Regions from separate parts of the Homo sapiens genome. Here region 2 is linked to region 1. Evidence: fine-mapped expression QTL. Tissue or cell type: whole blood. Region 1 holds a variant in brackets; the other region holds the start of a gene. All regions are shown on one strand. Distances are between the middles of the regions.

Region 1 (8,107 bases):
CAGGTGATCTGCCTGCCTCGGCCTCCCAAAGTGCTGGGATTACAGGCATGAGCCACCGCGCCCAGCCAACATTAGCATTCTTAGTATTTACCATTAGTATTTTTAATGTTTCTGTTTGACTCAAATCTTGAATTTTTTGGAAAATAGTAAAACGATGGACAGGTTAGGTGGATAGGCCATGCTAGTTGAAAACAGAGAAGATGGTAAAGTATAAAAGATAGCTGGGCATGGCGGCACGCACCTGTAGTCCCAGCTACTCAGGAGGCTGAGGTGGGAGAATCACTTCAGACCAGTAGTTTGAGACCAGCCTGGGCAACATAGTGAGACACAATCTCTAAGAAAAAAGAGTTTCCTCCTTAATCAGTTCAGATCACCTTTTGGACATAAGTCATTAGGTTATTTGTCTGGGTAGAGTAAAGCAGGCTGCCGGGAGTTGAAGTGTCACAGGGAGACTAAAGAAGAGGTACTAAAGAGGCTTTTCAGACGGCTTATCAAAGTTAAGGAGGAGGAGTTAGGCCTCTCAGTCTAGATAGCAAGGAAAGGGATGGACTGGTTTTTATGGACCAAGTTTTGTGAGGCCTAAAAAAGCTACTTGGGAGGCTGAGGCAGGAGAATTTGCCCTAAAAGGGCAGGAGGCCTAAAAAAGGAGTCATAGGGGATAAAGTTTAAAGATACAGGATTTTTTGTTGTTATTGTTTTACATTGTTTTATTTATTTTAATTTTTTGAGACAGGGTCTTGCTCTGTTGCCCAGGCTGGAGTGCAATGGTGCGATCTTGGCTCACTGCAACCTCCAACTCCCAGGTTCAAGTGATTCTCCTGCCTCAGCCTCCAGCGTAGCTGGGACTACAGACGCGCACCACCACGCCTGGCTAATTTTTGTATTTAGTAGAGACGGGGTTTTACCATGTTGGCCAGGCTGGTCTCGAACTCCTGACCTCATGATCCACCCACCTTGGCCTCCCAAAGTGCTGGGATTACAAGCATGAGCCACCGCTTCTGGCCATACACTTTATTTTTTAGAGAAGTTTTAGTTCACAGCAAAATTGAGCAAAAGGTATAGAGAGTTCCCGTATACTTCCTGTCCACACACGCACAATCTCTTTTACTATCAACATCCCACACCAGAGTGGTATATTTGTCACTATCAATGAACCATCATTACTACCCAAGGTCTATAGTTTACATTAGGGTTCACTCTTGGTATTATATATTCTATGGGTTTCAACAAATGTTTAGTGACATGTATCTACCATTACAGTATCATACAGAATAGTTTCACTGCCCTAAAAATCCTCTGTGCTCCACCTATTCATTCCTTTTCTCCCAATGCCTGGGAGCCACTATAGTCATCATGATGTACAATAGATCTCCTGGCCAGGTGCAGTGGCTCACGACCATACTCCCAGCACTTTGGGAGGCCAAGGCTGGTGGATCACTTGATGTCAGGAGTTTGAGACCAGCCTGGCCAACATGGTGAAACGCCGTCTCTAGTAAAAATACAAAACTTAGCTGGGCACAGTAGCTTGGGTTTGTGATCCCAGCAACTTGAGAGGCTGAGGCAGTAAGATCACTTGAGACCAGGAGTGTGAGGCTGCAGTGAGCTATGATTGTGCCACTGTACTCCAGTCTTGGCAACAGAACAAGACCCTGTCTCTAAAATAAATAAATAAATAAAAAATATAAAGTGGTTAAAATGGTGAATTTTACCTTAATTTACCTTAATTTAAAAACTACTCTTGTTTCTCTGTTATTTACAGAATAAAACTCTTTAACAGGCCAGGCGTGGTGGCTCATGTTTGTAATCCCAGCACTTTGGAAAGCTGAAGTAGGAGGATTAGTTGAGGCCAGGGGTTTGAGAGCAGCCTGGGTGACAGAATGAGACGCTATCTGTACTAAATAAATAAAAAAAAATACTGCACACTCTAGTTTTAGTGCCTTGGGAAGCTGAGACAGGAGGATCACTTGAGCCTAGGAGTTGGAGATTCCAGTGAGCTACGAGCACCACTGCACTCCAGCCTATCTCTGAAAAACAAAACAAAACAAAACAAAGCAAAGCAACTATTTAACTTGGCATACAAAGCCCTACCTGTGTCTCTAGTCTCATTATTCACATGTATCTCCTTTCAAAATATTCTAGACATATTGAAAGTAAAACTTCTTTTTTGTATCTCTGTGTCTTTACATATCCTGTTCCCTATGCCTAGAATTACCAGCATTCTACTGCACTTGGCAAATGTATACTCACTTTAGAAAATCCTGCTAAAATGTTAACCTAAGCTGGGTTTGGTAACACACCTATAATCTCAGCTACACAGGAGGCTGAGGCAGGAGGATCACTTGAGGCCAGGGGTTTAAGACCAGCTTGGCAAGGTAGTGAGACTTTCATCTCTGAAAAAAAAAATTAGCGGGCTGTGGTGGTGCACACCTGTAGTCACAGCTATTTGGGAGGCTGAGGTAGAGGACCTCTTGAGCCCAGGACTTGGAGGCTGCAGTGAACTATGATTTCACAATATGAAATCATATGATTTCATATGATATGATTTCATGTGATATGATTGTGCTACTATACTCCAGCCTGGGCAACAGAGTGAGATCCTGCCTCTAAAAACAAATAAATAATAAATAAATAAAATGTTACCCTCACATGAAGCTTTTCTTAGCTGTCTCTGGGACACTTAGTTGCTTTCTGATCTATATTCCCACAGCACTTTATTCATATTTCTCTTCTATCACTTAGCTGGATTGTTTTGTAACCTGTCAGTTAACATATCTATTTCCCATTTGATCAGTGACTTTTAAACTATTTTAGAGGTCATAGATGATGTACTATAAACTGTGGAATCTGTCTAGAAAAATACACATGTACGTATATATTTACACAGTTGTTCATCAGGTTCATGAACCTCCCAAAGGACATGCACAGACTATTCACCTGCATTAGAATCACTAGGAATGCTTGTTTATAAAGCAACCTGAGTTACTAAATCAGAATCTTTTGAGGGTAGGCCTCAAATATCTTGAACAATCCCACCAGGTAATTCTTTTATTCACTAGGCTTCAAGAACCACTGTCCTAGCTTAAGGACCCCCATGGTAGACAGTGAGTTCTTGAGGGCAGAGAGTGGATATTATTGATCTTTAGATCTTATCTATCCTAAAATCTTATTGATCTTTGGATCTT[G/A]TTGATCCTAAGATCTCACCATGTAATAGAGACCGGGCTAAGAAAGAGATCATTTTTAGCCATGGTGATCAGAAAAGGTAGCAACAAGAGATAAGAATCACCTGCCCCATGGAAAATAGGTTTTCAGTAGGTTGAGATGAAGTAGTGGAAAACACTGTAGGCACAGAGATTGGCAGCAGCAAAGGAGAGAGGCTAGAAAGTGCTATGTGTATCCATGGAACCAGTAGGATAGTAGGAAATAAGGCCAGAGAGGCGGCTTATTTAGTCATTAACTAACCATCTCCTCCCAACACACTATGTACTAGATACTATGCAAAACATTGAGAATAAATATATGAATAAGACATGGCTTTTGCTTTTCAGGAATAAGAGCAATCTAGTAGTAGGGGAAACAAACATAAAATGTGATAAAGTATAACAATGGAGAGTGAGATTTGAGACATCTTCACAGAGAAGGTAATTAAATGGAAACAGGGAATGAATAAGTATTTACAAAATGCACAAAGTTAGGAAGGATATTTCAGGAAGAAGAATTTAAACTACCCAGGTATGCTGGGGTGAAACAGCATGGCCCATTCTTATAACTGAAAATAGACTGGTATAATTGAACTATAGGTATAGAATAAAGAATTGGATAGAAGGTAAAGTTGGATAGGTAGGCAGTGGTCAGAGCACAGAAGAGCCTTGCATGCCAAACTATGTGAATAACTGGTAGCAGTTGAGGAGCTTTAAAGGGGAGAGTAAACTGTGTTTTAGATGGATGGTTACAGTATAAAGAAGACTGGGCAGGGGAAAGGCCAGAGGTAGGGAGACTAGAAGGACATTGGTATTCTCAAGGGAGAAATGAGGGCCTGAACAAAAGAGAGCAGGTGATATATTCAGAGAGGTTTTGTTTTGTTTTGTTTTGTTTTATGGATTCTTGCTCTATCGCCCAGGCTGGAGTGCAATGGTGTGATCTCGGCTCACTGCAACCTCTGCCTTCTGGGTTCAAGTGATTCTCCTGCCTCAGCCTCCCGAGTAGCTGGGATTACAGGCACGTGCCACCATGCCCAGCTAATTTTTTTTTTATTTTTAGTAGAGACAGGGTTTCACCATTTTGGCCAGGCTGGTCTCAAACTCCTGACCAGAGGTGAGCCACCCACCTCAGCCTCCCAAAGTGCTGGGATTACAGGCGTGAGCCACTGTGCCCAGCCCAGATCCTTAAAGAAGGATCAATAGGCCTTTGGTGACTAAGTGAATATGGGGAGTGTGAGAGGAGTTAAGAAGGGATTGAAGCCATTAAATGGCATGAAAATAGGTTTAGGAGCCTAGGTCAATGGTGAGACCATTAACCAAGAATGAGACTACAGGCAATAACAAAAGTTTGGGGAAAAGTGACAGCGATATAATAATTTCTAACATTTACTGAGCACCTACTATGTAGCAGGCACTATACTAAATGTTTTATATGTACTTACTCATTCAATTCTCACAACAACCTTACATGAAGTAGGTATTAATATAAGCCCCATTTTCACAATAGTGTTTAAGGGATGAGCAGAGAATGAGGAGCCAGTGAAGGAGATTGAGATTATGTTCATTAAATAATCTGAATTTTGTTCTTGTTAATTTATGTATGCATCAGTTTGGGAAAGCACTTACTTGGGTTCTTTATGCCCAGAGCTATGCTAGGTACTTTGGGAGTGATCCATAGTTTGAGATACATTGTACTTTCAAGGTTACAATACTTTTTTTGAAAAGCATACTGAGGAGGTGGGACTTGGGTTGGTGGGCAAAATGGCAAAACCCCACAAAGGTCATAAACAGACATGTTTCAAAAGAAAACATACATGTGGCCAACAAAAATATGAAAAAAGCTCAACATCACTGATCATTACAGAAATGCAAGTCAAAACCACAATGAGATACCATCTCACATCAGGCTACTATTAAAAAGTCAAAAAATAACAGCTGCTGGCAAGGTTGTGGAGAAAAAGGAACACTTACATACTGCTGGTGGGAGTGTAAATTAGTTCAATCATTGTGGAAGATTGTGTGGCAATTCCTCAAAGACCTAAAAACAGAAATACCATTAGACCCAGCAATCTCTTTATTGGGTATATACCCAAAGGAATATAAACCATTCTGTTTTAAAGGCATACACATGTATGTTCATTGTGACCAAATCACAATAGCAAAGACATGAAATCAACCTAAATGCCCATCAATGGTAGACTGGATAAGGAAAATGTGGTATGTATACACCATGGAATACTATACAGCCACAAAAAAGAATGAGATCATGTCCTTTGTAGGAGCATGGATGGAGCTGTAGACCATTATTCTTAGCAAACTAATGCAGGAACAGAAAGCCAAATACCGCATGTTCTCACTTATAAGTGGGAGCTGAATGATGAGAACACATGGACTCATAGAGGGAAACAACACACACTGGGCTGGGTGCGGTGGCTCACGCCTGTAATCCCAGCACTTTGAGAGGCCGAGGCGGGTGGATCAGGAGGTCAGGAGATCGAGACCATCCTGGCTAACATGGTGAAACCCCGTCTCTACTAAAAATACAAAAAAAATTAGCCGGGCGTGGTGGCGGGTGCCTGTAGTCCCAGCTAGCTACTGGGGAGTCTGAGGCAGGAAAATAGTGTGAACCTGGGAGGTGGAGCTTGCAGTGAGCCGAGATTGCGCCACTGCACTCCAGCCTGGGCGACAGATCGAGACTCCATCTCAAAAACAAAAAACAAACAAAAACAAACAAACAAACAAAAAAACCACACACACTGAAGCCTATTGGAGGGTGGGAGGAGAGAGAGGATCAGGAAAAATAACTAATGGGTACTAGGCTTAATACCTGGGTGATAAAATAACCTGTACAACAAACCCCCATGACACAAGTTTATCTATATAACAAACCTGCACATGTACCCTGAACTTAAAATACAAGTTAAATAAAAACAAAACAAAAAATACAAAAATTAGCCAGGTGTGGTGGTGCATGCCTGTAGTCCCAACTACTTGGGAGGCTGAGATGGGAGGATCGATTGACCCCGGGAGTTCAAGGCTGCAGTGAGCCATGGTCACACCACTGTACTCCAGCCTGGGTGACAGAGCAAGACCCTCTCTCAGAAAAAAAAAAAAATACATGTAATTTGTCCTGCTTTCTCCCAAGCCCCTGGCAACCACCAATGTGCTTTCTGTCTTTGTGGATTTGTTTATTCTGGACATTTCATGTAAATGAAATCATCCAATATGTGGTTTTTGTGTCTGACTTCTTTGACTTAGCATGATATTTTCAAGGTTTATCCACATTTTGGCATGTATCATTACTTCAACCATTTTCTGGCTGAAAAATATTCCATTGTGTGGATACACTACATTTTGTTTTTCCAGTTATCCACTGATGGACGTTTGGGTTGTTTTTACCTTTTCACTACTGTGAATAGTGCTTCTATGAACATATGTTTTCAAGGTTTTGTTTGAATATTTGTTTTGAATCTCTTGGGCATATACCTAGGAGTGGAATTGCTGGGTCATATGGTAATTCTATATTTAACATTTTGGGAAACCACCAACTTTAGTTTCCTTTAATCTGGAACATATTCCTTAGCCTTTCTTTGTCATTCATGGCATTAATATTTTTGAAGAACATAGGTCAGTTTTTTTAGAATGTCCCTCATTTTGGGTTTGTCTGATGTTTCCATGCAATTTAATTCAAGTTAAGCATTTTCAGTAGGAATAGTACAGAAGTAATTTGTGTCCTTCTCAGTGCATAATATCAGGAGGCACATGATATTTATTTGTGCCATTACTGGTGATATTAATGTTGATCACCAGTTGGTTAAAAAGATCTGCCAGTTTTCTACATTCTCAAGGTACTATTCTTCCCTTTGCAACTAATAAATATCTTTGAGGAAGATATTTTGAGAATATCTTGTTTCTCATCAAACTTTCACCCACTAGTTCTAGCATTCATTGATGATTCTTGCCTAAAACAAGTATTACTATGCTGTTTGTAAAATATTGCACAATAAGGTATTTTTCTTTGCAGTATCTGACCTTTATTTTGTGCTTGGATTGAGAATGTTGTGACTAAATTTACCTTTTGGAGAAGATACACATCAATCAGCAGCTAACTATATGCTAGTCTAAGTGACACATAGGCACTTAGAGAGAAACAAAGATATGAACACGTAACAATTAGTGTAGGGGGTAGCAGATACATAATTTATCTCCTAAGTTCTTTTTTCCCTGAGTTCATTGGCATTAATGTCACATCACTGTTGTATCGAATTCATTTGGAAATTACTCATTAATATATTTTTACCTTAATAAATCCTTAATTGAAACACTCAATATTTTTGCACAGTAAGTTTTTCATGATATATCACACCTACCACACATAGCACATCACCCAGTTGGACGTGAGAGCACATGAATTGTCGGTAATTTTAATGAAAATTCTGAATCCCACTGCACAGTGCTGTATCCCATTAATAGTGTGTAGACTGTTGGTTGAGAGAGAGATTCAGAGCACTAAGGAGATAGTGGTGTCAAAGCTAAGGGAGGTGAAAGTTCTAAGGTAGAAAAAGATGAATAGGATCAAATGCTGCAGAGGTCAACTAGTTATTTCATTATACTTGAAAACGCTCATGAAATTTGGCTTTTAAGCACAATTGGTGACCTTCTTGAGCAGTATAATTGGAATGGTATGGTTCAGAAACCAGTTTATAGTGGCTGGAAGAGTAAGGCAAGCACAACCATAAAGAAAATTATTGATAACCTTGAAAAAATTGTAAGTAGTAAAAAATACCAAAACGCCATAAGCAAAGTGAAAAAAGCCAAAATCATGAAAAATACTTTTGGTTTATTTTCAGATTTCAAAATTGTAGATAAGGGATTGAAGACATGTACAACCTTCTTGGAAAGCAGTTGGG
Region 2 (8,107 bases), 85 kb before region 1:
AGTGTAATGTCCTCCAGTCCCACATCCCCCATCAAAGCCCTCCCAGAGCACCAAGCTCACAGCACATATTCTATACCTACTCAAGCTCACAGTACATAATCAATATTTGTACCTGATTGGTGGGTTGCCCCTGGGTTGACAATGGTGAGGCTCCCCTTGAGGCTCTGCCAGCTCTTCAGTGCCTTGGGTATTGGAAGCTGTATGTTTTCCCTTCCTCCCTCACTGGTGACATTCTACTAGGGAAACGATGCTTTCCAGTGGCCCAGGGAGCTGAGATTGGCAGCTTCTTCAGCCCCCAGTGCAGCTTATATTTACTGATTGCCGCGGGGCAGGCTAGTTACACAAGGGGTTTGGCCCTCCCCTGGCCACCCCCCTTCCCGAAACCTGCCTTCTTTTCCCTACCTCCTTCCCAGTGCCTTTCCCCCATTTCTCAGGAATTTGTGCATAAACTCTTCAACCTTGGGGGCATTTGACCTCCCACTTGGAGGTCTTTAGTTTAGAAATTCAGGAGGAGCCCAGAAGTGCTTAGAGCAACTAGGAGGCTGAGTACATGGGACGGTCAGAAACTACTTGTTTCTCTGACTGGTGCTCTTAAGATAAGGAGCACCTTTGCCTGGGGAATGATGCTTCTTGTTCCAGGGTTCTTTAGCCAAAGAACTCCTTGTGTTCCTGGGACCCTGAGGTAATGGCATTTCAACTGTGCTGATGTTCCTTCAAGGAGTGGCACTTGTCCATCCGGCCTCACCTCATAGTAACTAAGGACCACAATGACCATGACCTGGCACTATGATTTCTCCTCTTTTTATCCTCTAATTCTGGATCTACTTGAGAAGATCCATTCCTTTCCCTACTACTTAATAGCCACAAGGCCCGTTTGTCTCCTCTTCTTTAGGCCTTGGAACTAGCAAGTGGTACACAGACTCTTAATTGGAGAGGTCAGTTTCCCAAAAGCCCATAACTCTTACATGTTGGAGGGCAGGGTGGTGGGGGTGACTGCTAATTGCTCCCTAAGCCACCTAATCTAAACTTTCTTGTTCTAAGTGAGTGCCGCCCCCTGGTGGGGTGGGAGTAACCTTGGCATATCATCAGGGAGGCCAGTTCAGGCATGAGACTTCCCCTCAGAGAGGGGTGGGGGGGCCTTGAAGTCCCAGGCTCAGCCTGATTTGACTTTGCCCTCATTCCAATTAGAGCAAGCCAGGCTCTTTTTAGAGAATATGATTTATAGTTAGACCTGAGTTCAAGTCCTCACCCTGCTGTTATTAGGTGAATTTCCTAACCTTTTGGTACCTAGTTTCCTAATGTGTAAAATGTGGAATCTCAGAATTGCTGTAAAGATTAATAAAATAAAAACTTTAAAAACTACTTTGTAAACTCTAAAGCCCCACAGAAGTGTAGATTATAAGGACGGACTATACTCCCACAATATAACTAACAACTTGTTATTTCCTCTACCCTGGAAAATGAACCTAAGGGAAAAGAAAAACAGCTGTGTAGGCTGGGTCCAAGGAGGGGAGCTTTTTATGAGCTGAGACTGTGGCGTGGCAGTCTACCCAGAAATAGTGCCAAGGGTCTCAGTCAGCTGTCCTATCTTCTGTTCTGCCCAGCCCCTAGGGATAGCACAGATCTGATCCCTCAGTCTCCTATACCTAGGGGAAGTTCCTCTGCTCATCCAACCTTCTGTACTTGGTTATATGCTGACCTCACCACCTAGAGAGGTACAAGCCAGCAATAGGGCTTGAGGCTCCCCAATTTTGTGATTACAGCCCCATATTTTCTCAGGACAAGTTTTTCAGAGTATCCTTTGAGATATTCTCTCACAGTTTCTTCACAGAAGGCCAAGAGAACTCCCAACTTTGTGCTCTAAAGTCAGAGCCCTACCTCCTTCTTCATGACTAATATTCCTTAACAGTAAAGGATGACTTCCCCCCAAAACTTGGATAGCCCCTTACAAGGGAGAGTTTCTTGGCAGCACAGGGTAAGCTGAGCCAAGTGGCAGCTCACAGCCCTTTTTCTTCTTAGTGCATGAGATCAGCTACCTTTCCCCATGAATATTATTGTTTTTACCCTTTGCCACTGCACTCCCTCCTCCTGGGTAGAGCAGTGCTAGAACAGTACCACTACACTGAGGTACTGGGAGGCAAGCAGGGAATCCAAGTAATCCCACAGGAATGGGAGAAAAGGTGTTGGGGTGGGAGGTGGGGGAGGAGGGAAGGGTAGGTTCATGTGGGGAATCCACACAGTTCCTGCTGTACATAGGATAAAGACTTCTCTGTGGGAATAAGTGTTTGGGGCAGCCCAAGCCAAAGTGCTGCGAATATTGAGCAGTGAGCAGAGAATTCAATTTTCTCCAGGGCAGGGACAGTGTCTTATTCATCTGTGATCCTTCAGCATCAAGCACCGAGTGTGGCATATACTATGTACTAAGTAAATGTTTGTCTAACTGGAGATTGAAGGTGGATCTCTGGGCTTCCCAAAGGGGGTGGGGGTGGGAGGTAGTAAAAGGGGCCCCAGAGTAGAAGTAAGGGAGGCTAGGGGGTCCAGGGGGTAGATGGTGTTGGGAAGAAGGTAAGAGGGTCATAATTACCTTCCATCCTGCTGAGCTGTTGCTGTCACCCTTGTCCTTGAAGTAGGGTACAGTACGGACCATCCACTCGTAGATCTGGGCAAGTGTCAGTCGCTTCTCCGGGGCGCTTTCAATGGCCTGGCTGATGAGTTCTGCATATGACTGATTTCCCCAGGCATTCCGGCGGGAGCCTCCCTTCCGAGGACCTGTTACAGCCCCCAGGATTCCGGGCTGGGGGCCCCCGGCCGGCTCTGGGAGCCGAGAGGGCAACAGGATCGGCTCTGAGCGCCCCTCCGTGTGTACCTTTTCCCCCAGATCTGGCTCCACCTCGGGCGGCTCGGACGGCTGGTTAGCGATCTCTGGTCGGGGAAGGGGCCAGGTGCAGGAGCGGGGACGGCTCTGGGGTTCGAAGTCGGGATCTAGGTCTATGATCGCGGCAGCCTCTGTGGCTGAATTCTCATTCCCCGGATCCATACGTGGAGTTGGACCTCCCCGGCTCAGCGTTCAGTGAAGCCTGCCACAGTCCCTCACGATGCCTCCCCTCAGGGGGGAAGCATCGAGGGCCAGGAGGCACATTCCTGCCAGTCTTCAGAAAGTCGCGAACTTCCCCCTAGTCCCAGGACGCTAGTCCCTAAGCTGTCCCTTCACACAGTTCTCCGATCCCCTTCCCGACTACAGCCTGTAGCCTCAAAGCTCTTTCTGAGATGCCACCTGTAACCTCTGCCGAGCGAAGACACTTTTTCTGCAACCTCTCACTCAGCTTCCTGCTCTTTTAAACCTGAGGCACTGTATCCCCTCATATATTGCGCTCCCATCACCGAACGTCTCCTTAGCCGCAGTTCCCTCCCCCTTTTAAGTTGCTGCCCCCCGGACACTCCTCCCAAATTTCCTCCACCCGGATTGCTGCCCTCCCCCACGCCCCGCTCCCCCGCGTCACTTGCCCCTCCCCTGACTCCCCCTTCCCCCGCCTCTTCCCTTCTCGCCACTCTTACTAGGGTCCGGGTCCCCGCGGCTGCGGCCTCCCTTATTCCCGCACCGATTCCCCTATCAACCCCCCCCACCCCCCGCCCCCCGGGTTTCCCTTTTGTTTTGCTCCAAGCAGCAGCCCCCTCCTGACGTCTCTGTTTACCACTCGCCGGGGCAGCCATCTGCGCACGCGCCTCGAAAGCCAGTCGGGAAACCGAGTTCTGCAGTCGTGCCACCCTGGTCACTCTTGAGGACTACATCTCCCGTCCTGCTTCGCGGCCAGGAGCCCGATACGGCGGCAGGAGAGCGGCGTGGCAGGATATAACGAGGTGGAACTTTAATTATTAGAAGTCGTCGCGGACTCTTTCTTTTCTTAAGAATCGTTTTTCGCCCTTTCCCCCTTTCCATTGTCTCCCTTGTGATTCAGAGTCGTGTAGGTGACCAGATTGAGAGGTGCTAGCCCTTTCCCTCCTTCATTTAGGAGACGGCAAAAGGGAAAAAATTATTCTCTTAAAGATGCAGGAGACCAAGAAGCAAGAAGCAAGGAACTGACTAGAAAATAGGATGTATGCACGTTGGAGAGTTGGGTGGGGGGCTTGTGTAACATAAACAAATGGTTAGCCCACGGTGGTGTTCCTCCTCACCCCCTTCCTCCTCCCTCCACCCGCCTTCATCCCCCCATATGCAGTTCCCACTGACAGTGAGGTCTCACTTACCAATCAGTTTCCTCCACTGGCTCTTCTGGCTTTCCCTTCAACACCGATATTCTCCAGGTTCACATCTCCAACGGCTTCACTTCTCATTCAACAGGTCCAAACTCATTATCTGTTCCTGCACCCGCACCCCTATCCTCTGGCTACCCTTATCTCTGAATTTGACTTATGGTAGTCCTGATCTACCCAGTCTCCCAAGCTCCAAGCAGCAGCTTAGAGGTAATTACCCATTACTTCTTCATCTCCGTAACTTTCTACATCCAAATCCCAGTTCAAGACCTATTTATAACTGCATTTAAATTGTAGGATCAGCCGGGTGCAGTGGCTGACGCCTGTAATATCAGCACTTTGGGAGGTCGAGGCAGGCGGATCACTTGAGGTCAGGAGTTTGAGACCAGCCTGGCCAACATGGTGAAACCCATCTCTGCTAAAAATAGAAAAATTAGCCTGGTGTGGGGCACGCACCTGTAGTCCCAGCTACTTGGGAGGCTGAGGTGGGAGAGTCGCTTGAACCCAAGAGGTGGAGGTTGCAGTGAGCCAAGATCATGCCACTGTGCTCCAGCCTGGGTGACAGAATAACACCCTGTCAAAAAAAAAAAAAGGTGCAGTATCATCTTAATTGGATCTCCTTCCATCAGTCTTTACCTCACTACAGTTTATATTCAGAGCTGCCAGCAAGGTTACCGTTCTAAGAAACATGTCTGGTAATTATGGCTAAAATTTATGGAGCCCTTATTATGTGCCAGTCTCTGTGCAAATTGCTTTACGAACATTAGTTCATTTACTCCTCAATCATTTACTCCTCAATTCAACCCCATGAGGTAGGTACCACTATTATCCGCATTTTATAGATGAAGACACTAACAATGCTCAGAGATTGACTTGCCCAACGAGGCAGAACTGGGATTATATAACTTACATGCGATCGTATAATTTCTTTCTTTCTTTCCTTCCTTCTTTCTTTCTTTCCTTCCTTCCTTCCTTCTTTCTTTCTCCTTCCTTCTTTCTTTCTTTCTTTCTTTCTTTCTTTCTTTCTTTCTTTTTCTTTCTTTCTTTCTTTCTTTCTTTCTCCTTCCTTCCTTCCTTCCTTCCTTCCTTCCTTCCTTCCTTCCTTCCTTCCTTCTTTCCTTCTTTTTTGAGACAGGGTCTTGCTCTGTCACTCAGACTGGAATGCAGTGGTGTGATCTTGGCTCACTGCAGCCTTGACCTGCTGCACTCAAGCAATCCTCCCATCTCAGCCTCGGGAGTAGCTGGGACTACAGGCATGTGCCACCACGCCCAGCTAATTTTTGTATTTTCTGTAGAGACGGGGTTTCACCGTGTTGCTCAGGCTGGTCTGGAACTCCTGACTTCAAGTGATCCACCTGCCTTGGCCTCTGAAAGTGCTGGGATTACAGGCATGAGCCACCGCACCTGGCTATAAATTTTGTTTTTTTGATCATGTAATTTCCCTGGTTAAATCTTCCTCTGATTTTCCCCATTGCCTGTGTGATAAAGTTCAAATTCCCTCGCAAGGCATGCCAGGCTCCTCAGATTCAGGCCACTTCACACCTTTCCTGCACACTAAGTTACAAGCAGAGTTTCACACTATTTCCTGGAAATACCATGCCCTTTTATACCTTTCTCTCTGCATCCTGGGATATCATCCCTCTTGTCATTCCTCTCCACGTCTCTTATTTTGGAAAACTCCTATTCAGCCTTCCCTGTCTCCCTTAGGTGTGATTAGTTCTCCTTTTTTTTCTGCATTCCTAAGCACTTTGTGCAGTCTTATGTTATATAGCACAAACTATATTGTATTGTAATTATTTGTTTACTTATCTGTCTCTCCCAGTAAACTGTGAGCTCTTATTTATTTTTTTTTTAGACAGGGTCTCGCTCTGTCACCCAGGCTGGAGTGCAATGGCACAATCTCGGCTCACTGCAACCTCCACCTCCCAGGTTCAGACGATTCTCCTGCCTCAGCCTCCCGAGTAGCTGGGATTACAGGTGCCTGCCACCATTCCCAGCTAATATTTGTATTTTTAGTAGAGATGGGTTTTCACCATGTTGGTCAGGCTGGTCTTGAACTCCTGGCCTCTGGTGATCCACCCGCCTTGGCCTCCCAAAGTGTTGGGATTACAGGTGTGAGCCACAGTGCTCGGCAAATATCATTTATTAAATGAAGTATCACAAATAGCATTTGGACATTTAACAACTTTTAAATAAACATGTCCTATGCATTTTTTGCCTGGCCCTGTTCCAACTGTTAGACAGCAACCTCTGAGGGGCAGGGACTGTAATTTGGCTTGTCTGCCACTTGCAGTGTTTCTATTGTGTTCTGTGATGATGCGGCCTTCCTCCTGTGCAGAAGGATATCCATGCAACCCAGGATTTTTCAGCGGTGGCAGCACATTGGGCCTCCAAAGTGATATTAGCCTGATCATGGTAAAATAGCCATATTGGTTCTCCATATTCCTGCCTTCTTCTGCTCCAACATGCATTTGTCCTCCACCTGTTACCTAGGTGTATACAAAAGGCCATATATTCCCATCTGAGGTCCAGACTAGAGAGATGAGACATAGTTGCTCACGATGCCTGCAAACATTCCCTGCACATGCCCCTTTTTCCTTCACCCCAGCTAAGGGTGCCTGATAAGTGCTGCATGAGTGGTGAATTTGGTAGAGGAGAGAGCCTTGTGGCACTAGGTCACAAGGAGATCTCTTCTAACTGAAACAGCTATGATGGCAGATCATGCAGAGTTACTGAGACAGGGAAATGGCAGGGTGGGGCAGGCACCTGTCCTGGCCTGAGTTAAATCTTGCATTGTCTCTCTTTGTGCATTTGTTTGAAAAGGTCCACCTCTCCACCAACTCATGTCCATCACCTCCTTAAATTTACAATTCAAAGCTCAAAACTAACCTGCCCTTGGAAACTTTTCCTGACTAGTCCAACCTGACAGGCCACTTCTCCAATTTGCATCTCCTGAACCTCTATGAACTCAGTTTGTATTTTTATTTTTTATTTATTTTTTTTTTGAGACAGAGTCTTGCTTTGTCGCCCAGGCTGGAGTGCAGTGGTGCGATATCGGCTCACTGCACCTTCCACTTCTTGGGTTCAAGCAATTCTCCTGCTTCAGCCTCCCTGGTAGCTGGGATTACAGGCGAGCGCCACCACACCTGGCTGATTTTTGTATTTTTAGTAGAGACGGAGTTTCACCATGTTGGCCAGGCTGGTCTTGAACTCCTGACCTCAGTGATCCACCCGCCTCGGCCTCCCAAAGTGCTGGGATTACAGGCGTGAGCCACTGCGCCCGGCTTGTATTCTTTAACTTTGTGCTTCTGCTTACATGGCTTTTCATTTCATGAGGGCATATTGTCTCCCCAACTAGATTATAAACTCTACTATCAATCAACGGATGTTTGTGGAGCCTTTACTGTTGAGAGTACACCTTGAAATCCTGGACAGATAAAAATGACCACACGTCATAGGACCAGATAATTTAGGAGGACGAGCTAAAGGATTGGTGGGATGGTAAAAACACCATCATGACTTTAAAGCATGCAGATAGAGAGGTCAGGGTTGTTCAGCTGTGAAAATGTTGCAAAATAACATTAGTCAAGAGACAGAATTAGCAAGATGGTCTTGGAAAATAAAAAGACATTGGGCAGGAAACAAGATTAATAGGAGGCTCCCAGAAACCACCGTAGCTGTAAGCTACAAACAGATAATGGCAGGATTTAGAAGACACAGGCTTTTCTCCCAGTTTGAAACCCCAGAGTTTATTTTCTCAAATGTCCCCCCATTCACAATTTGTTTTTTTTCCTCTTCAAGGTCATAGGGGTTTGGCTCTCTTGACTTTCACTGCCACCGCCCACTCTTCTACTTG

Evidence for each region. PIP is the estimated chance that this variant, and not a neighbour inherited with it, causes the effect.
Region 2: it holds the start of FOXO4, and the variant in region 1 is fine-mapped to the expression of FOXO4 in whole blood (TOPMed, PIP 0.97).

The regions. Positions count from the first base shown.
Region 1 is chrX:71,006,704-71,014,810 of GRCh38, reverse strand. No RefSeq gene overlaps it. Among named protein-coding and RNA genes, the nearest start is that of SNX12, 58 kb to the left of the region's middle. The variant G/A (reference allele first, on the strand shown) is at 3,183.
Region 2 is chrX:71,091,459-71,099,565 of GRCh38, reverse strand. It overlaps FOXO4 (forkhead box O4), which reads right to left and starts at 3,715. Exons shown (of 3, transcript NM_005938.4): 1 at 2,585-3,715. The coding sequence starts at 3,037. RefSeq lists an enhancer at 953-1,247.